Regions from separate parts of the Homo sapiens genome. Here region 2 is linked to region 1. Evidence: fine-mapped expression QTL. A gene starts in region 1. The other region holds a variant in brackets. All regions are shown on one strand. Distances are between the middles of the regions.

What was found. PIP is the estimated chance that this variant, and not a neighbour inherited with it, causes the effect.
Region 2: its variant is the best candidate, but not a certain one, in a credible set for the expression of MTHFSD in whole blood (INTERVAL, PIP 0.79).

What each region holds. Positions count from the first base shown.
Region 1 is chr16:86,549,860-86,561,102 of GRCh38, forward strand. It overlaps MTHFSD (methenyltetrahydrofolate synthetase domain containing), which reads right to left and starts at 5,376. Exons shown (of 8, transcript NM_001159377.2): 1 at 5,310-5,376; 2 at 4,786-4,892; 3 at 2,174-2,287. The coding sequence starts at 5,325. FLJ30679 (a long non-coding RNA gene) reads left to right here and starts at 5,461. Exons shown (of 1, transcript NR_026674.1): 1 at 5,461-7,440. RefSeq lists enhancers at 2,983-3,647, 3,648-4,310, 5,279-5,328, 5,369-5,658 and a silencer at 5,233-5,446.
Region 2 is chr16:86,527,443-86,538,248 of GRCh38, forward strand. MTHFSD (methenyltetrahydrofolate synthetase domain containing) reads right to left here. Exons shown (of 8, transcript NM_001159377.2): 8 at 2,744-5,039. The coding sequence ends at 4,569. Among named protein-coding and RNA genes, the nearest start is that of FOXF1, 22 kb to the left of the region's middle. RefSeq lists an enhancer at 1-595. The variant A/T (reference allele first, on the strand shown) is at 3,219.

The DNA of each region.
Region 1 (11,243 bases):
GACTCACAGGTCTGGGGTTGGGCCTGGGAAGCTGTGCATGCCCCCGGCACTGCGGACTGTCCGGTCAGACACTGGCCACTGTGCCTGTAGCTGTGGCTTGAGGTTGTGCATGCCCCCAGCACTGCGGACTGTCCGGTCAGACACTGGCCACTGTGCCTGTAGCTGTGGCTTGAGGTTGTGCGTGCCCCCAGCACTGCGGACTGTCCAGTCAGACACTGGCTGCTGTGCCTGTAGGTGTGGCCTGAGGCTGTGCATGTCACCATTGCCTGCCCACATGCAGCTGGGGCTCAGGAACTTGCATCTTTACCTGCATCCCAGCTGATCCTTAAGTCCCTTAAAGTTTCCAAAAACCACTGAGGACCCTGAAAGCACCAGAACTCAGGGACCACATGTGTGTAGTCTTGCACCACTACATCCTATGCCCAGCACGCAGCCTGGGAGATAGCTCAGTTACTTATGCAGTTGTTTCTTCAGCCTGAATAAATGATGGCATGAAGCAACAGGGATTTGCTCAGGGCTGCACCCCTCTTCCAGGCCATCTTGGCTAAGGCTGACCACACGGTCAAGGTTTCTGATTTTTGCTCTGAGGGGCTGACAGCTGAGAACACCCTGAACTTCACACTTGCAAGGACTGGCTCTGGAGTCAGGTGGCTGAGTCAGAATCCTGGCTGTACTGAGACTGATGTGCGGTAACCTGAGGTGGAGCCTCTCTGTCTCTGGTTTCAAGTGTCACAGAGGAGCAGAGATGGCTCCCATAGTAGTAGAGAACCAAACCACATAATACAGGGAAAACATTTAGACAGAACTGCGCCTCGAATGCAGTGACTGCCGACTGCCGTCCTTCCTTGCTACTGCTGCTATTACTACTTCTAGCTTATTAAAATGATTCATTAACTGGGAAAATAAGGCTGACAGGAAGCTATGCTTCTGGAAGAGCCTACATGGAAGTCTCTCTTGGGGCTGAACCACCATCAGCAGACAAAATGATCTCCCACACGAGCCTGGACCCCTCCTCTCAGCTCCGGCAAGAGGTGTGGAAAGTGCCCCTCTCACCAGGGCTTCTCAGGAGTCTGACTTGGCAACTTGGGTGGGAGAATGGAGTCAGCACACAACGCATGGCAGCGTTAAGGCAGAATGACAACGATTCTGCCCTGAGATGGCCAGTACTATACTCATGTTATCAGCTGCGATTTGCTCCAGCAAAACCATATCAACCATTACGTTAAATTAATGGGGCCATTTGAATGTTACTGATTTTATAGTTTTGTTTGTATTTAACTTATATGCTTATTTTGGTTTTATAGTTACATAAAAGCTATCTGCATTAAAATTTATACCAAGTTTTATGTTTATCATATTGAATTAGTTTATAATAAACTAATTTAAATCAACCCTGGGGGAGTTTTCTGGTTTTCCTTGAAAAGGGGCCTGTATGTTTTCAGTTGAGGAACAAGTGCTCTAACCGATACCTTTTGAGGGTACATCAGACTTCTTACTCGTGATTTATCATGTTTCAAAGCATCATAATACCACAACTGTGGCAAAAAGAACTAAATCTTCCTTGTAATCTTCCTCCTCTGATGAAGCACATCAAAACTGAGAATGCTTCAACGCCATAGTTTTTGTGTTTGTTTGGTTAGGAAGTTAAAAAATAAAAATTACAAAAGCATGCCTGAATTTAAAAAGTTCAGCAGTGTTGAGAAGAAACCTTTCCAGTTCTTAACCGTGGTCTTTATAGTATCAGAACATGACAAGTGACCGTCTGTCATCCAGAAGCAAATGATTCTGTGTTCAGCAAGCTTGTTAGCATGCTCATTTCAAATGGCAAAGTGGTGTCATCTATTTCAGCTCCAGCTCCTCAATTCTGGAACACCACAGGTTCTGCCTGGGTTCCCTCTCCTGTGCCAACTGGGCCTGGAAGCCATTGTTTTGAACATCCTTTATCTCTGAATTTAGAAGCATTCGGGACTCCTGATTGACTGAATTGCTAAACAGCTGAAGGGCTTCTGAACTATTCTTGGAAAAATCACCACCAAGGGCACTTTCTGTATTGGAGGGAATCGGAAGCACCGACTTTCTAAATGCAAGACAGACGTGTGCACTGACCAGCTACCTGGAAAAGGTGTCCCCCTTGGCGGCCAGGTCTCGGCTCGGCTCAGGGAAGTGGAATTACCTGCAGCACCAGCAGCCGAACGCCTTCCAGTGGTTTATCAGGGTCCACTTTAACTTCCTGTGTTCTGGCAAAAACGTCTAGGTCTTTGATGTTTTGGCAAGCCAGATAAGACCCCTAGTTAGGCAAATAGACAGAGTTGCACTTACTTCAAGGACGAAGAAGCGAGCACTTTTCTGGGGGGCATCAGGATTTACTTTAATGGTCCTGGCCGTTTTGAACGCCTGCAAGCGTGGGAGTTGCTCGGCAGCATGAGAAGCGCCCTGTTTCCAATGCAATCGCACGTTACTGAAAGGACAGCACGCTCTCAGGCCAACTGCAGCCCAAGCAGCTCGGCCCAGAATCTCACCCAGACAGGCACTAACAGTCACCCAAAGAAACATCTAAGGAAGCAGTCTAAGTAAGGAAAGGGATTTGAGAAAAGTAGCCTAATCCCACTTGAGCTTTAACTGAAATGAAACATGCATTCCAAAAAGAATACAAATCCCAAGGGCAAAATTTGATGATTTTTCACAAAATGAAGGCTGCTGTGTAACCACCACCAAAATCAAGCAGTAGCATGACCTGGAAGCCCCCACCTCTCTCCTGTTTGATTCGTTTTTTAAAGATTTCTACATGATTCTCTACATCCTTCATCTTTACCTCTGTTAAGATACATTTCTCTCTCTGGGGTCAGAAGCATTAAAACAAAACACAGTAACAACAAAAAACCATCAAAAGATCAGTTTTTCAAAGGGACAGGACAGTCTTGGAACCACCTCAGCTGAGGACCAGGGAAGGTGGAGCTTGTTGTGGAGAAGCCAGGCTTGGGGAGAGGCAGTCCTGACAAAATGGGGTGAAGCAAGCCAACAGCTAAGTCCTTCAGGGCAGAGAGCATTTTTGAAAAGCGCTTTCTTTTGCTCTTGGAAAATAGGCATGTCAAAGATGATGAACTGCTGCATTGCCTCTTCCGAGTAACCTTTTTTTTTTCTGTCAACACTGTTAGGAACAGCCATCTTTGATTGTCTTACATTTTGATCAGCTGGGAAACTGAGGCCCAGCATCCTTAGGCTGGCAAGGCATTCATTTCTTTCCAAAGGCCTAGAGCCTGAACTTCCAGTTCAGTACCCCTTCATTCCCTAACGCTCTTAGCAGGGTCAATTTTGTGAAAAGCCATTACGACAATAACATGCTTCCGGCCAGGATAAATATTTTACTTTGTATCAAACAGAAAACAGCAACTAGCACCACCTTGAAAGGTGACAGCGTGCTGGCAGCCCTCGGTCCCTCTCGGCGCCTCCTCGGCCTTGGCGCCTACTCTGGCCGTGCTTGAGGAGCCCTTCATCCCGCAGCTGCACTGTGGGAGCCCCTTTCTGGACTGGCCCAGGCCGGCTCCCTCAGCTTGCTGGGCGGTGTGGAGGGAGAGGCGCGGGCGGGAACTGCTGCTGTGCATGGTGCTTGTGGGCCAGCGCGAGTTCCATGTAGGCGTGGGGAGCCCCGCACTCACAGCGGCTGGCCCTGGGCAGTGAGGGGCTTAGCACCTGGGCCACCAGCTGCTGTGCTCTATTTCTCGCCGGGCCTTAGCTGCCTCCCCAAGACCTGCAGCCTGCCATGCCTGAGCCTCCCCACCCCCACCGGCGGGCTCCTGTGCAGCTAGAGCCTCCCCGAGGAGCGACGCTCCTGCTCCACGGTGCCTGGTGCCATCCACTGCCCAACGGCTGAGGAGTGCGGGTGCACTGCACGGGACTGGCAGGCAGCTCCACCTGCAGCCCCAGTGCGGGATCTGCTGGGTGAAGTCAGCTGGGCTCCTGAGGCTGGTGGGGACTTGGAGAATCTTTATGTCTAGCTAAGGGATTGTAAACACACCAATCAGCACCCTGTGTCTAGCTCAGAGTTTGTGAATGCACCAATGGGCACTCTGTATGTAGCTAATCTAGTGGGGAGGTGGAGAACTTTTGTGTCTAGCTCAGGGATTGTAAACGCACCAATCAGCATCCTGTCAAAACGGACCAATCGGCTCTCTGTAAAATGGACCAATCAGCAGGATGTGGGTGGGGCCAGATAAGAGATTAAAAGCAGGCTGCCTGAACCAGCAGCAACAACCCTCTCCAATCCCCTTCCACATTGTGGAAGGTTTGTTCTTTGCAATAAATCTTGCTGCTGCTCATTCTTTGAGTCCACCCTGCCTTTGTGAGCTGCAACACTCTCTGCTAAGGTCTGCAGCTTCACTCCTGAAGCCAGCAAAGACCGTGAACCCACCAGAAGGAAGAAACTCTGAACACATCCAAACATCAGAAGGAACAAACTCCAGACACGCTGCCTTTAAAAACTGTAACACTCACTGCGAGGCTTCATTCTTGAAGTCAGTGAGACCAAGAACCCACCAATTCTGGACACAACCTCACCTAGAGACAACCAAACCACCCTGCACAGAGACGCAAGAGGCCCCAGGTGAAGAGTAAATGACGTCTCTAAATGCTAAGGACGCCCTGGCCAAATGGCTTTGATTTCACACCACTGCTCACTGCTCGCCACATTCTCATCCACCATGACGCAGTAAGAGAATTTTATTACTAGTGTTATTCATTTAAGAATATTTTGTTTTCCTTTTCTGGACTCCAGAAATATGTCAGTACCTTAAAGTTGGGTATCCTGTGATGAACAGGTCGGGGAAAGTCAGCTAAATTTTGTGATTCCATGTAGCCCCAAATTTGTTCACGTATGTCCTGTTTGGAGACACCTACTGCAACAAAAGATTCCCACTTAATAACATACAAAGGAATTCCAGAGCCCATGCTGAAACCGCTTAACAGTAGTTAAGCGACCCCCGCGTGTAGGTCAAACCGGCTTCCGATCCTGTTCCTGAGCCTCAGTTTCCCCGACCTCAAGGGGCCCACGGGCTCCCCCACGTGCACGGCAGGTGTCCCTCCCGCCTCGTCTTCTCGTTATCTTTATTTTTCCTGACATCTTTCTCGGGATTCCGGGCGAGAGAGCCGCTGGTTCGACCCGAACCCAGCACAGACCCCCTCTGACCTCCTCGGCCGCTTCCGGTGATTCTGCCCCATCCTCTGCCAGCCCCGGTGGCCCCGCCTCGACCCTCACCGGTCCCGGCTGTCCCTCCCCATTCCCAGCCGCCCCGGAGCCCCGCCAGGCCCCCCACCTGCCCTCGGCTCCATGGTGATGCAGTCGCTGTGCGACGCTTCCCGGCGCAGGTTCTGGCGCGTAGTGACGTCACCCGCTCCGCGCCTGCGCGATGGTAGGAGGGGCGGAGGCTGAGCGGGCGAGGCCCAGGCGCGCATGCTCGGGCGGGTAAAATCCGCGCCGGGGACAGTCAGGGATGCTCCCAGGCCCTTCGCTCTTGCTTTCAGCTAGTCATTGTCGAGCGCCGCCCGTGACAGGCGTTTTGCCAAGCCCTGGAGTTACTGAAGTGAACAAGTCCCTGGTCTCTCGGGACCCATTGCCGGTTGAAACACATCCCGCCTCCTCTTCCAGTCCTAGAGGCCGCCTCCTCCGGAAAGCCGGCCTTGATTGCTCCTCATGTAGGACGCGGTTCCCTCCTCTGAGATCCTGCAGACTCTCAGGTGCTCACACGTGGGTGTGCAGCGGATTCAGCCGGCAGCTCTTTAAAGCGGCAGGCAGATGGAAATTCGAGGCCAGCCCAGCCCCGGCGACTGCGCTGCGGACGGCCAGAGGCCATCCTTTGAGAAACACCCGTGGATTCTTACCCTGACCTCTGCATACCCTGAGAAAGAACGAACGTGGCAGCCTGCGTCTGCTTGTCTATGTCTTTCATGTTTGCTAACCTAAGGGTCGAGAAGCGGCTCGAGGAGACCAGGCTGCACAGACCGTCACGTCCATTCCCTCTCTGGCCCCAGCCCCGCGGGAAGAAAACGAGGGCGTTCAGCCTGGCAGTTCATTCACTTATTAGGAAGAAGACATCCCACACCCCCACCCAGCACACACACAGATGTCAGGGACCAGCCACTAGGAACCACTCCCTGAGCGAATGAAGGCATCCCCGTAGCCACGTGCCTGGTACATCACAAGCACTCAAAACGTGGCTGCCACCTTTCGAAATTGCATGCCCAAAACTTTATGAGATCCTCACAACACACTTGGGAAACAGACAAAAGAGTTTGAATGCCCGCCTACTTAACAGATACAGAAAATGGTGTTCCGTGTACAAGCGACTTACTCATGTCTGCTGGTAACTCATAATGTGCCGTTTGACCTCCTTAGGACATAATTAATAATGGTAATTAACAGTGCTACGATATGCCAGGCATTGAGCTTAGCGCCTTAAAAGTCATAGCTAACTATGTTTCACAGCAAACCCTCAGAGGCAAATGTGACCCGCCTCCTACGCAGGAGGCAACAGAGGCTCAGACATGTTAAAGAAGCTTGGCCTGAGTCTCCCAGCAGAGAAAGGGCAGAGCGTGTAGCCCTGACAACGTGCTTAATTGCAACTCCTGTGGGTCCCATCACAACTCTCTCTTCCTATGTGGTGTCCGCAACATTAATACATAGAGACACCGAGGAGCCTCAGTTCTGCTTGTGGGCGGGCCTGTCTTTCACCAGGCTGGCAAAAGCAGTGCAAACATCATTTTGGAGGTGATAAAATAAAATCTCTCACAGAGGTTGGATGTCCTTTCCGCCTTTCATGGAAGCACAGTAGATCTGCAGAGTGTTTTATGCAAGTAGACTTGGTGCCAGTAGTGGAAGTGTGTGCAGGATTCTGTTACCCAGCTGTGCTCAAAACAGAGCCCAAGTCTCTCCGATGGTCAGCCTGGCACGGCCCCCAGATGGTAACGAGACGCCAGGGACAATCTGCCAGTGGCAATTTTAGAAAGCAGGTGGTGCTAGGAAGGGCATTCTCTTCAGTTCCATGTTTTCAAGTTAGAAGTGCCTCAGAGCATTTACCCCCAGCTCCTTGAGGGGGTGAGGCAGAGGATCACTTGAGCCCAGGAGTTTGAGGCTGCAGTGAACTATAATGGCACCACTGTACTCCACTTGGGCGACACAGCCAGAACTCCTCTTTGAAAAACATAATAATAAATAAAAATAATAAATAGTAGTAATAAGAGACCCCTTAGAAAAAATCAACTGGCTCTTTTATGAAAGGAAGATGCTTTCAGAATGAATAGCTAATGCATGTGGGGTTTAATACCTAGGTGATGGGTTGACAGGAGCAGCAAACCACCATGGCACACATTTACTACCTATGTAACAAACCTGCACATCCTGCACATGTATCCTGGAACTTAAAATAAAATTTTAAAAAAAGAAGATGCTATTGAACCTTAACTCAAATACTTAAAACTCAATCATATGTGTAAATTTGCATTTGGGCACTTCAGGATTTTTTTTTGTTTTGGTAGATTTTATCATTTAGAAAAGTTTTGGTTTGGCCAAGAGTGGTGGTTCACACCTGTAATCCCAGCACTTTGGGAGGCTGAGGTGGGCAGATCAATTGAGGTCAGGAGTTTGTGACCAGCCTGGACAACATGGTGAAATCCCATCTCTACTAAAAATACAAAAAATTAGCTGGGGGTGGTGGCTCGCGCCTGTAATCCCAGCTACTCAGGAGGCTGAGGCAGGAGAATCACTTGAACCCAAGAGGCAGAGGTTACAGTGAGCCAAGATTACGCCACTGCACTCCAACCTGAGCGACAGAGCGAGACTGTTTCAAAGTAAAGAAAAAAGAAAAGTTTTACTTCACAGCAAAATTGAGCAGAAAGTACAGAGAGTTCCCATATACAACCCCTGCGGCTGCATTTATACACAGCCTCCCCCACTATCAACATCCTGCTGTGGAATGGTACATTTGTTACAATGAACTTACACTGATACATTGTTATCATCCAACAGCCATGGTTTACATTAGAGCTCAGGCTTTCTGTATGTTCTGGGGTTTTGACAAATGCATAATGGCATGTGCCCATCCCTGGAGTATCAGGCAGAATATTTTTACTGCCCTACAGATCCTGTGTGCTCTGCCTCTTCCTCCCTCCCTGCCTGCCTGCTAACCCCTGGCAGTTACTGGTCTCTTTTCTTTCTCCATGGCTTTTTCTTTTCCAGAAAGTCAATAATTGGAATCATACACTATGTAGCCTTTTCAAACAGGCTTCTCGCGCTTAGTAATATGCATTTAAGGTTCTTCCATGTCTTTCCATGGCCGGAGGGTCCTCTCTTTTTAGTGCTGAGTAATATTCCATCGTGTTGGTGTCCCACGGTTTATCCATTCACGCACTGCAGGACCCCTCAGTTGCCCCTACGTTTTAGCAAATACACAGAAACCTGCTATAACTATTCCTGTGCGGGTTCACGGAGGATTGCAAAGCTTGTCACAGGCATCTTTTAGAACCTGGCTGGAAGGAATAGCGTAGAAATGGTGAGTCTGCCTAGGCATGAAGAGCGTGGCTCTGAATCTCCAAGCTGTGTTCCCTTTTACGGTGAACTTTAAACATCATAGTTCTCCGAAACTACATCCAGTAGCTTCAGTTATACTTTCAATCTACATTCAAAGTAATGGCAAAAACCGCAATTACTTTTGCACCAACCAACTTAACAAAATGTAAGATTGTTTAATAAGCTAATAACTGAAAAGGTATTTGAAGAATTCTTTCCCTCACATTAGAGGTTGCCAGATTAAATACAGGTTTCCCAGTTAAACTTGAACTTCAGATAAAGCGATTTTTTTTTTCATTTTTAGTATAAGCACGTTCCATGCAGTCTGTGGGCATTGTTATTTTCATTTGTTCAAGCTGGCAAGCCGAAAGGGCCCCCAGTCTGTTGCCAACTTCTCCAAGAAACTCACACGGCCTCGTCCCCCCTTACTCATTCTTCTGAGCTTGCTCAGCCTGGCCCCTCCCTCCCTGCACCATCCTGCGGCAGGGACGGCACCGCGGTGGAGGTTTGAGCCTGCTCCCTGGCTGGTTCAAATCCCAGGTCTGCAGCTCTCTAGCTGCGTGAGGCCGGGGGCGTCACTGAACGTCTCTGTGCCTTGCTTTTCATTTGCGGAGTGGAGATAGGAGCACCGTTGGCATCCGCCTCTCCACGCTGGTGACGGTGAAGTGCCGGATCCATGCGGCCCGGAGAACAGCACCTAGAATGCAGGGAGAGCTCTCTACGAGCATTGACCTAAAATAAAGTTTCAGCCTGTCATCATCCATGCGCCTGCCACAGCTTGGGAGCCAGGGAGCACTTGACGATGAGTCCCCATTTCTTATGCAGTGTCTGCCTAAAATAAGTGCTAGTAAATGTTTGAAACAAATCCTGGGCTTGAGCCACAAATGGGAGGCAAGGCCTGTGAGTTACGGTTGGGCAGGCAGTGAAGTGGGGGAGGGCTGCGTATCTCTGAAGCCCCATTTGTTCAATGTATAGTTAAGAACATGGAGTCTGTGGCCGGGCACGGTGGCTCATGCCTGTAATCCCAGCACTTTGGGAGGCCGAGGCGGGAGGATCACCTGAGGTCGGGAGTTCGAGACCAGCCTGACCAACATGGAGAGACCCCGTCTCTACTAAAAATACAAAATTAGCTGGGCGTGGTGGCACATGCCTGTAATCCTAGCTACTCAGGAGGCTGAGGCAGGAGAATCACTTGAACCTGGGAGGCATAGGTTGCGGTGAGCCGAGATTGCACCGTTGCACTGCAGCCTGGGCAACAAGAGCGAAACTCTGTCTCAAAAAAAAAAAAAAGAACATGGAGTCTCATGGAGTCTGTGTCAAGCAGAGCTGTGCACAGGGCGGACCAGGCCCCTGCCTGTCTTCCCTGTATGGGGGTGGTGAGGCAAACAACAGATAGAAGACTGAATGAGACCACACCAGGCAGGGGAGCCTGTGCCACTGAGAACATGAGTGAGGAGAAAGGGGGAGGTGGGGGGGGCAAGGTAAGCGGATGGCTGGGGGAGGCCTCGGAGGAGGGGGCAAGGGGGCAAAGAATTGAGATGAGGGACCAGGCCCGGGGCACAGCAGGCCCAAAGGCCATGCGGTGGGTCCAGGCTGGGCTGGCCATGCAAGCCCCATGTCGGGATGCACACAGGCAGAGGTGGGGGCCAGGGCCAGGGAGTGTTCTTGGCTTTTACGGACTCCTAGAGGTGGACAGCACCCAGTGACAGTGGTGGTCGGACTCCCCTGGGAGAGCGCTCTGCACTCTTGGTCTTATTCAGTGAGACCCACTGGGGTCCCACTCAGTTATGCCACTGTGGGCGCCAGCCCTAGTCCCAGTGGTTACTGGAAGCACTGGCTGAAGCTGCTCCCAGACTGTGGCTTTTGAGCCTGGCTTATTCCTTGGGGCTCAGAACACCCATCCTACAGGCTGCGCATTTGATGAAAATTAAATCGTCCCCCTCGCCTCTTTCTCAACCTGTCATTGTCCAAACACTGAAGTCCTCTCTGACCTCCCCAGGGGCAGCCTGCTTTCCACAGGCCATTACGGTGAGTCCATGTACCCCACAGGGTTAATCACAGGGGTTCAAGTTAGTGATATAAAAAACTCAAATCTCATACACATTAAGTTGTGTGTGGTCAGAAGTCATGGCTTCATGGATACACCATTATGGATGTTTTTCATTTAACTTTTTAAATCTCCTCTAATTTCCAAGTCCCTAATTCTTTTTTTTTGGGGGGGGCGGTAGGGGGGATGGAGTTTTGCTCTTGTTGCCCAGGCTGGAGTGCAATGGAGCGATCTCAGCTCAGCGCAACCTCCACCTCCCGGGTTCAAGCGATTCTCTTGCCTCAGCCTCCCGAGTAGCTGGGACTACAGGCGTGCACCACCATGCCCAGCTAATTTTGTATTTTTAGTAGAGACGGGGTTTCTCCATGTTGGTCAGTCTGGTCTTGAACTCCCGACCTCAGGTGATCCGCCCGCCTTGGCCTCCCAAAGTGCTGGGATTACAGGCGTGAGCCACCATGCCCAGCCCCAAGTCCGTAACTCTTAATCTCAAAGAGGCAGCAAAGGAGTGGGTTAAGAGATCCCAATTTCATCACTTGGCAGCAGCAACACTTAGTTTAGTTATTTAAGATCTCAGTTTCCTCACCTGCAAAATGGTGGTATTAATAGTACCTACCCTAAAAGAGGAGTAAGTGAGAGGTC
Region 2 (10,806 bases), 23 kb before region 1:
GCTAGCACGTGTCTCAAGATGCTGATGTTCGGCAGCTCCTTGTTGCCTGCTCGTATCTGTAGACGAGGCCCAGACTCCTGCCACAGGTGTGTGGAGAAGCCCTGGCTCAGATGCTGCCTCCGCAGCCCAGGGACGTCCTCCTGTCGTGTTTCTGAATGCTGGTGCGGTCTTGCCTTCCACACCGGGCTTGGCTGTGGCTTGCCACCGCCTGGTCTCCAGAACTCTCGTCTTACTGCTCACAGATTTTCTTTCTCCCTACACATCACGTCTTCTAATACAAATGTTGATGTTGTGAGTATGCATTTGTATTTTTAAAAACATCACCACCCCTCCTGCTGAGCTTTTTATTTCTGCTGTCTGCAGGCTCTGTTTAGGATCCTCACCCACCTCACAGGACTTCTATTTTTAGAGCTCATGTTTTCCTGTGTATTTTAAGATCAGAGCAGACACGAGCAAAAAATGACACATTTTCCTTTTTAAAAAACCTTTTTTTAAATAAAGTTTCGAGGACACTTCATCAACACAACTTTTTTTCATGGAAAACCGTCTCACATGTCTCAGGAGTAAGGAGCGGATGATGCCTGAGATTTTCTCGATTCCTGCAGTGAAGCTTTTTCACGATGTAGTTCCTTCACTTTGAGTCTCTCAAAGGCCCCATGTTGATCTGTTTTCTATTTATTCAATTGTATCGATTTCATATTTGCCCAGGAACGAGGCCCACGGGTGCTTCCTAGGTCTCGCGTTCCGACTTGCGTGTGGTGCAGGCTTTCAGAGCTCAACCCGGAGGGGCCCGTTTCCAGTTCAGTGACCGGCCATCTGAGGGCTGGGGAGGGGTGTGGCCAGGCTCACCCAGATGGGGAACTCAGGTCACACACGCCTCCACCTGTTTGGGTGAAGCCAGTGAGCTGGGGCCAGATGACACCTGACCTCCCTCCTGGAGCAGGAACGGAGGCTCCTTCCTGCGTTTCCCACCTGCTGTGCCCAAAGGAGCCTCCTAGAGCTCGCCCAGTGCTCCAGCTTCTCAGCCCACGTTCCCCAGGGCTCGGCTCCCGTGTCAGCCCTGTCACCTGGGAAATGGCTCCAGGGCCATCACCACCACTTCTGCCCCAGGGTCCACTCTTGACACAAGGGCACCAGGCAGGACCTCTGGCTGAGTCCTCAGTCTCACCCCTTTGGAGAGTGAAGTCCTCCGTCTGGGGGGCAATCAGTGGGTCTGGGGCGGCCAGGCCGACTGGCCTCAGCAGCGGGCGCACCGCTGAGCTGTGACCGTGCACCTCAGGCACATCGTTTCGGCTAACGTTCACACAACCCGCAGTGTGTGCTCCTACCGCACCCCCTTACAGATGAGCAATGGGAGGCTCAGAGGGATGAAGCAGCTGCCACCGCACACCCACCGCACCACACGGCGGCAGCACTGACGCTGAAAGCCACGTCTGCTGGCTTCCGAAGCTCCTGTTGTTAATCGTGGCTATGTTTCAAAACTGCAGAGAAGAAAGCCTGGAAATAAATAAGGGGCAATGTCAAGGTTGCCCAAGTGGTGCTCCTTCTTTATCCTTCTCATATTCTAAAATTTCTAGAAGGAATTAGACAACCAAAAAACCTAAGGGATGGGGACTAGTTAGTCTCAAAATAAACTCAGAATATTAGAACTGGTAAGAACTTTAGAAACCAAGGAGTTCAACCCCTTAAGCCAAAACCTGCACAGGTAGGTGACCTGCCCACAGCACCCACCTAGGACCACACCCCGCAGTGAGAGCTGGGCTACTGGGCTCCAGAGTCCAGCGCTCACTGTTGCAGAGCCAAAGGTATGTGTTCTGGAAACTGCAGCTGCAGATTCTGCACAAGTCTTTCTCATCCACTGGCAAAACCACGCCACCATTTAGGAAGATACCAAGATAGGACCCATGAATCACGACGGCTTCATTTAAAAGGGTACAGGCCGGGTACAGTGACTCATGCCTGTAATTCCAGCACTTTGGGAGGCCAGGGCAGGCAGATCACTTGAGGTCAGGAGTTGGAGAGCAGCCTGGCCAACATGATGAAACTCCATCTCTACTTAAAAAAAAAAAATTGGCCAGGCGTGGTGGTGCGCACCTGTAGTCCCAGCTACTCAGGAGGCTGAGACAAGAGAATAGCTTGAATCCAGGAGGTGGAGGTTGCAGTGAGCTGAGTTTGCACCCCTGCGCTCCACCCTGGGCAAGAGTGAGATTGTCTCAGAAAGAAGGGTACAGGCCAGGTACAGTGACTCATGCCTGTAATCCCGGCACTTTCGGAGGCCAAGGTGGGAGGATTGCTTGAGGCCAGACGTTTGAGACCAGCCTGGGCAACATAGGGAGACCCTATCTCTACTAAAAAATATTAGCTGGGCATGGTGGTGCACACCTGTCGTCCTAGCTACGTGGAGGCTGAGGAGGGAGGATGGCTCGAGCCTGGGGGTTCAAGGCTGCAGTGAGCTGTGATCACACCACTGCACTCCAGCCTGGGTGACAGAGTAAGACCCTGTCTCAAAAAATAATAATAACAGATATAAAAATAAGAGGGATGGTCTCAGCAGTTGTCAAGTGGTTGTCTTCCATTCTCCCCTTATCACGTGTGAGTGACACAATCCCGATGCTGAGCCGTGGGAACAAGAAGTTGGGTTGTTGAGCACCTGCCTCACTGCTGCCTGCTCACCACGCTCCTTGGGAACTGTCCCCACAGGCCTCCCTGGGAAGGACAGGGCAGTGAAAGGTGTGCAGGCTGATACATGTGGGGGATTTTATTTCAGGCACTTGCTCTTCAGTTTTTCTTACACGATGTTCCACAAATATAAAAATGAGAAACTCTTTCAGATTATCTGTATATCCATATACCTGGATTATTCTGGCTAAAGCGACAGGAAATCCCAGCAGTCTGGCTTCCCCGAGTAACCCTGTACTGCCTGGTTTAATCCCGCCGTCTGAGGGTGGGGTGGGCGTCAGGCATGGCTGGACACAGGAGTGCCAGTGGTGGGGTCAGAATCCAGCTTCTCCCTCTCCCGGCCCCAGTGGGTCTATTCCCCGAAGTCCTTGCTCCTGTCTGCAGGGCTGTGCCCACTGCCGGTGGGGCAGGGAGTGGAGAAGGGGGGCTGACTCACTTGCTCTTCTCCTGGAGTTGCTATTCTAACGGCAGCAAATCCACAGGAAAAAGGTAAACAAAAAAAAAAAAATAAGAATCTTTCAGAAAAAGAAGTATTTTTT[A/T]AAAAAAGAGAGAAAAGAAGGTGAGGAGTTCAGTGTAACCAGGTGACTACTCTGAACTGGGGACTGAGTCAGCCTCTGACGCTGAGCTGAATGCCCAATGACAAACGTGACCAGCCGTGCGGGCGGGGGCAAGGCCAAGGACACAGAGGGCCGAGGGCCCAGGGCCAGGTGTGGCGCTTCCAGACGTTTCTACTCTCTCATTTTATTCATGGCGACTTGGGAAGGAAATCTGTCTTTAATGAGCAAATGTAAGGCTGCGTTTTCTTTGCGAAGTCTCCACAGGATTTTCACGGCAAAACCAATGAGAAAATGTCCTTTCAAAGAGAAGACCGAGTGTCCCGAGAACATTTTCTTGAAAGCGCGTGCACGGGCCGCCCTCTCGAGGCATCGTAATGTGCTTCAAAGAACACTTGGTAAAACCCTCTGGCTAAAAAATCAAAATTTCCAAAGCATATACATTTGAAAAAAACAAAATCTCCACTTAAAAGCTTATTTTGACTTGTTGCCCGGGATCAATTGCAAAAGCGCTTCTGTTGAGAAAGGACAGTTCAGCCAAACTCAAGCTGGTTTTTAGAAACAGAACTGGAGGAAAAAAACCCAGAAAACATAAGGCACTGGGCAAATGTGACGTAGGCTGGGATGAAACCCATTCTCCCAGAGCCGGTCTCTCCCACAGCACAAAGCTGCTCCTCATGCAGCCAGCTGGCTGAGGGCCCGGAGTGTGTCCACAGAGGGAGGAGCGGGGCTGGGGAGGGGAAGAGGGGAGGCTGGCTCCCCGAAATGTGACCTGAGGACTGATCTGAGCTGCAGTGAGCACTTTTTACCCAGGGGCTGAGCTTCCTGGGCTCCTGCGACATGGATGGAGCTCTCCCTGCCGTGCTGCCAGCTCAGGAGCCTGAAGCCCAAGGGCGCGCTTCTGTACCCAGCATCCAGTCCCTGCCAGGGCCTTTTGAGAGCCGGATCCTTTGTTCATCTTCTCCTGTTCAGCCCACCCCTGGCAAACTCGAGATCACCTTCACATCACCCTCCCCTGCTTAGCCACTCACTCAGTCCCTGGCCCCTCTGCTCTGTCCCTCCAGAGAAACAGAAACCGACTCAAGGCCCGAGCCTGCACGATTGGGAGGCTGCAGTCTCTGCGCGCTGTGAGATGAACCGCAGGGCGGCTTCCCCACTCACAGGAGGGCCTGGGCGTTCACTGAGCGGTGACTTCTGAGAAGAATTGAGACCCGAGCAGCTCAGGCGGTGGCTCCGACACGTCTTGCCACGCAGGCCTCTCGAGTGCCATCGGAACCGGAGCGGCAGGGGACGGGGATGGCGAGTCTGCAGTGAGCTCCGTGGCTGTCCACGAGGTCACTTGTCCCTCTGCTGCCTGGCCAGCGCCACCCTCAGGGTGTCGGTGCCCAGGCGCAGGCCCTGCAAGCAGGAGACGGCCTGCTGGGCTGCGGCAGAGTCCGGGTAATGGAGGAAGGCTCTGCGCCGCGGGCCCTGCCAGGTGAGCCGCAGGGGCACGGAGCCGAGTTCCCGCAGGGCTCTCTTCAGGTCACTCACACGGGCGTCCCCGGGGAGGTTCCCAACGTAAACATCGGCTGCAAGCGGGGCACCCTCCCCTGGTGGGGAGCCAGGGGCTGCCTCCATGGAATTGGTTTCTGGTCCGGGTGTGTCCGGGGGCCTCCTGCCAACACTCAGGGGCACTGTCTGCTGGCAGCCTGGTTCCGGAAGGTGCTGGTGCTCACCCTGGAGGGTGACATCCTTCCCAGCCTGCTGCTCTCGGGCGCGGAGGCTCCTCAGTATGGGGATTTTCTCCATCATCTCCAGGCTGATCTGAAAAGCAAAGCAGTTGCAGCTCTTTCAGGGACAGAATCGCAGGGGCACCTGCCACACACGCATCCACACCTCTGACTACTGGCTGTGCTGCACACGTGGACTGGATGCCAAGTGGTCTGAGCCCCAGGGACATGGGACTCCCACTGTCCCACCCACTATCTCACACAGACGATGTCACCAGTCTGTAGCTCTGCCCCTCGCCCCTGGCTTAAGGGAAGTCAGCACTCACGGGGGCTCTGGAGCGTTTGCCACGAGCTGTGGAGGCTGCAGGGTTGGGCCTCCATTTTCCTCCAGGCCCAGAAGCAGGAAAGTAAAGCTGGGGCTCTCTGCTCAGGCCTCCTACCCAGAAGAGGCACCTAAGATTGCTACTATTGGGATTATAGGGTCACAAAAGGCAGCTCCCCTAATGACCCCCCCAGAATAATGGGGAGCTGCCTCCGCATCTGCCCCCTACCTGTACCTTTGGGTGGGATGAGGACTTTAATAAGACCACAGGGGTCTCCTCTCCCCTGAAGGAACGTCTCTCAGGGGTCACCCCCTTCAATGCACAGCCAAAAATGCAGAAGCAAGGCAAGTCTGAAACACAGCTTTGAAAACACTTCCTAGCGATGGGTCATCAAACTATGAAATCAGTAACGCTATGCGAAACTTAAGTCTCAATTGTATGCGACTTGCAGACAAAGGACATCTTTGGCTTTATCTGGATTTTTCTAATCAATTAGCTACGGCAGCGGGCCCCTTGGAACAGACTGGAACTGGCTTGATGCAGCCTAAATGGTGAAGGCCTGATGGCTCTGTCCTGTGGGGCAGTTTGCACTGGGGGCTGCCTATGGGTCAGGACAAGTCAGGTGACGCCTGGACCACCGTGCCCTGTGCAAAAAAGAAACAGACAGACACTGTGTAGTCCTTTTTGACAATTCTCATTCTTTAGAGATGCTTTTTATTTTTCTTTTGGGCACCAAGCTTTCACATGAGCATGGTCATCAAGAGGCAAGCCATGGTCACCTGCAGGCCTCCAACAGAAGTGAATATGTCGCAGTACAGGGCAGCACATGAGCTAGACAACTGTAAATTGTTCTACAAGATGAAATAGTTCAACTAGTATCAATGCTCTCATTACATTCAGAATAATATGTAATTTAGAGCAATGGTCCTTATCCTTGGCAGGGTGAGAGAGGAGCCTTTGTGAGGAGCTGGGGTTCCCTCCCAAGAATGACTCACCCACAATTTTCTGTACAATTTCCCAGGGTCGATAAAGACTATTCATGGGCCTCCAAACTACAAGAAGTACACAGGCCCCAAGTTAAGCATCAATAAATTAGAGTAACAGTTAAAGATACACAAAAACCTAAGAACAGCCAAGTGCATTCCTGCAAACCTAGAGGCTCTCAGTCTTCTCTCATCTAATACCTGGCTCTGTCTCCCAGTGCTGGGTGGAAAGTAACCTCCCCTCCCGGCGAAGCTTTTGCTTTGGTCAGAGTCCTCTGTGGTGGGATGCCACTCTGCTCCCTGGCACTGCCACGTCAGAAGCCTTGGCAGGTAGCAGGCACATGGCCTCATTTTGGTCTTGAATGGCAAACAGACTCTTGGCTGTCATAGAAAGACTCTGCAAAGAAAGACTTGCGCCAACATTTCCCATTGTTCAGATACAAAGGAAAACAACTCATGTCTATGCCATGAACATATCCACGATGCGCTCTTTTCTAATCACAAGGCATTTCTCTTCCACTGGGCCCTCGGCCATCCTTCTCAACTGATTCACTGTGAGGAGACTAAACTCACAGAGCAGTATCATACCAGCTCTGAGGCCCAAGGAATCTTCAGCCGATTGTATATTTGCTGGCTCAGAATAAAGGAGCTCCCTGTGATGTGCACGGAAGGATATATTTGTCTTTCCCACGGCATGTTTCAAAACAGATTTCTGCCGCAAAACCCCAAGTGTGAAGCCTCGCCTGAGAATGCTTGCTTCTGCCATAGGGAAGCTTGAGGTGCTACTGGACACAGATGGGAGGGGAAGAATGAGAACGACCTAAGCCCAACCACCCCAACCTCTTTCTACACCTCTATTCCACCTTCTCAGAAAGTTCAGGCTTTTGTGTTTTTTTTGAAACATGTAAAAACAGATATAAACTGGTCATCATTTGATTTTGAAGGATCTTTTAAATTACCAGATTTAGTATTGAAACAGATGATACAATTTAAAAATGCAATTGCAATGACAGAAAAAGTGTGGCTATGCATTTATCTGGAAGAACTGAAAGTTACTTGGCTCTGAGTACAGCACCAGAAGCCTTGAGGTGAGAGCATCCCGTGGGGTGGGGTGGGGGCAAGGTAAGGGGTGCAGTAAGGGGTAGGGGTTTGGGGGCAGGATGCACCCTCCGGGTAAGCACTGCTCTTCTGATGGGGTCCATCGGGAGCTGCGCCAGCCCAGTCTCCTGCCTCCTGAGTTATTTCCCCTCCCATCTGTGTCCAGTAGCACCTCAAGGTTCCCTATGGCAGAAGCGAGCATTCTCAGGCGAGGCTTCACACTTGGGGTTCTGCGGCAGAAATCTGTTTTGAAACATGCCGTGGGAAAGACAAATATATCCTTCCGTGCACATCACAGGGAGCTCCTTTATTCTGAGCCAGCAAATATACAATCGGCTGAAGAATAATGAAAACATCTTAACCACACATTATGAGCTAACTGGCGGCCAGGGCACTGGCACACTGGCATCCGCAGGGGCCGTTAGAATGGAAATGTGGAAGTGTGTTCCACTGCAGGAAAATCGCTCTTTTCATGAGCAGTGTTTGTGGGTAAAGGATGACAAGGCTTCACATCAGCTCCCTCCTCCTCAAGCTCTAATGGCTGTGGGGCGGCTTTGCCACTCTGCCAGCAGCTGGATGACCACGCCGATCCCTGCCACAGCTGACAAGAAAGCCTCCTGTGTGCCAGCCAGCAGGGTGTCTGGACGTCATGGTTGGGATGAGTGCATGGCAGTGCTACTGTTTCCTGGCTGGCAATGAGGAATAGTTGTTACATTCTGTCAATCTGGCATGTGAAGTGAAAAATTATGCTTGTTACTCAAACATGAGAAAACATTTTTGCCTTTTTATAACTAATTCTATTCTAAAAAAAAAAAATAGAATAAACTTTAAGTTTAAAAACCTGTCCCCTAGACATGCTAAGTCAAATACGAATCCGAAATCTGACTTTCAAGATTTCCGATTGAGAGTCAGAAACTGCTCAAAAAAGCAGACACCTGGGCTCCAATCTTAAGGCAGCTACATGCTGCTCTTACCATTTTGGATAAACTGCTTTTCTTTCTCACTCTTGCATTACCTGACCTGAAGATAAGGAAACTGGGAGGATGATCTTTGAATCCCCCTCATTTTTTTTTTAAGAGACAGGGTCTCACTGTGTCACCCAGGCTGGAGTACAGTGGCACAACTCATAGCTCACTGCAGCCTTGAATACCCAGCTCCAAGTAATCCTTCTGGCTTAGCCTCCCAAGTAGCTGGCACTACATGTGGGCACTCACCACCACACCCAGCTAAGTTCTGTATTTTCAGTAAAGACGGGATCTTGCTATGTTTCTCAGGCTGGTCTTGAACTCCTGGGCTCAAGTGATCCTCTTGCCATGGCCCCCCAAACTGCTGGGATGATAGGCGTGAGCCGTGCTGGTGAAGATGAGCAGACATCAGAAGTATTTCTAATACTAAGTTCAACCTCCATAAATAATGAGTTCTCTTGCCTGAGACTAAATTTGGTTGTTCACTGAGGAAAATGCTTTAAGACACTTCCAAATAGCCACAGTGAAATAACCATAGGGAGTAGGTATGCTCAGAGGAGAGCACAGGGAAGGCCAAGGGACCGTGCTGCCTTCCGTAAACATAAACGCCAGGCAGGCCTCGAAGCCTCTGCTGGCTCTCTAAGGGCAGAATCTCTTCAACGTGGCTCATGGAAAACCCTTTTGTTCATAGTTGATCAAAGGTGTCAGTTGGTAGAAAAAGGCTCAATAGGGCCACCCCTTTACAATCACGCTTCGACTGGGAGTGCTGACGGACAGCAGGGGCAAGGCCTGCATCTCCCAACAGGGGGCCTGACCACAGGCAGCGCTGCGTTCGACTGTACCCCAACATCAGGAAGGGATGGCTCAACCTGGGAGGGGTCTGGAAGTCACTAAGAACTATTTAGTAAAAAACATTTCTGTTTCCTGGTATACATGATCACCTTAAAACTGACGCTGCGAAATGCCAGCTTCCATCTGCACGCCTTGGCTCCTGCCTGGCCCTCATTGCGAGGCCCGCGGGAGTGGCTGCCTCCCTCCCCCTGCTCCGCACAGAGTCCTGCATGGGACCAGCAGCTCCTGTCTCACTTCCGCACTTGGGGTTTCAGCCCTCGGAGAAGAGCAGCCGCGTGGTTCCCCTCACGCAGACATGCTTGAGCTTTCCGTGTTGGCTGTTCCGGTGTCACCCTACACACGTCTGTGCGTGAGTTTTAAGAACTGGCGCATATTTAACTATTTTCATTTCTGAATTCTCATTTCTACTAACTGGGTACCCTGGGAACAGAGATAGCTACCTTGCTGCTGTGTGACTGGGTTCAAATGCACCCGGGCGCAATGTCTACCTTGGAAAATATTGAACAAATTTACTATTTTTTTCCTAAATATTGTTGATTATAAAATTAGTATATGCTTGTTGTGGGAAATTTGGGAAGAAGGTAGAAACGTTTGAAATCCTATCTCCCAGAGACAACTACTGTTAATATTCTGCTGTATTTCCTCGCCGTCTTTTCTCTCTGCCCTTTAACATGAGCAGAATATGAAATTCCATATCAAGCATGTATAATATCATATCGTGCCTTTTCTACTTTATACCACATGCACTTTCTCCTGCCACAAAATATTCTTTAAAAAGCTGTATGCACTTAAATGGACTCCCCCCACCCCCATTTTAAGGCACTGCATGTCTTCTATAGAGATTCAGATAAGTCCTTATCTGAATTTCTACATATTTCTCTAGGACTGATTCCTAGAAGGTAAATTATCAGGTCAAATACAGTAATTCTTTTTCAATGAAAGCCTCTCTCAGCTCTCTAAACATACTGGCCCAGTTGTGGGTAGGGGTTGGTTCACAGTTAGCTGCATTATTTGCAGAGAACAATTGTGTTTTATGCGGGATCTGAAATTGGGCTTTGCTGTCCCAGGACTGCTGCTCACAGAGGAGCCCTGTTCTCAAATCCTTTTTCTTGAGGTATCTGTAGATCATGCAGCATACTGTGGCCATCTGAGAACCACACTCCCCAGCAGGCTGTGTGGGGAAGAGCGGGCCATGCTTTGAAAGCTACAGAATTGTTTCCTTGAGTATAAGCACGAGCGTGGCTCTGGAAGAATCCAGTTTCCCTCATTAAGGAGCAAATGAGTTGACCCAGGAAAGTCAGATGCACGGGCCTTGGTCTATGGTGTCCTCGCCAACCCCGTGGTAATCAGGAGCCATGTGCTGATGGTGAGGAGCACAGGACGGGTGAGAAGATGTGTGTGACTGACAGTCCTTCCACTGGGCAAAGGCCAAAAGGCCCTCTGGTTTGTGGGTCTGGTGACGGGGACCACAGGCTTGTGGGTGCCCGAGTGGCTTCTCCTGAGCCCTCAGTCTCCCACTCAGGCTGGCCTTGCCTTCGGCACAGTTGAGGTTCTGGAGTCTGTAGCCATGTCCTACCATTCCTCTCTGTCTCCAAGGTATTCTTAACATATATCATTCCTGCCCCCAGCTCAGGCCAGCT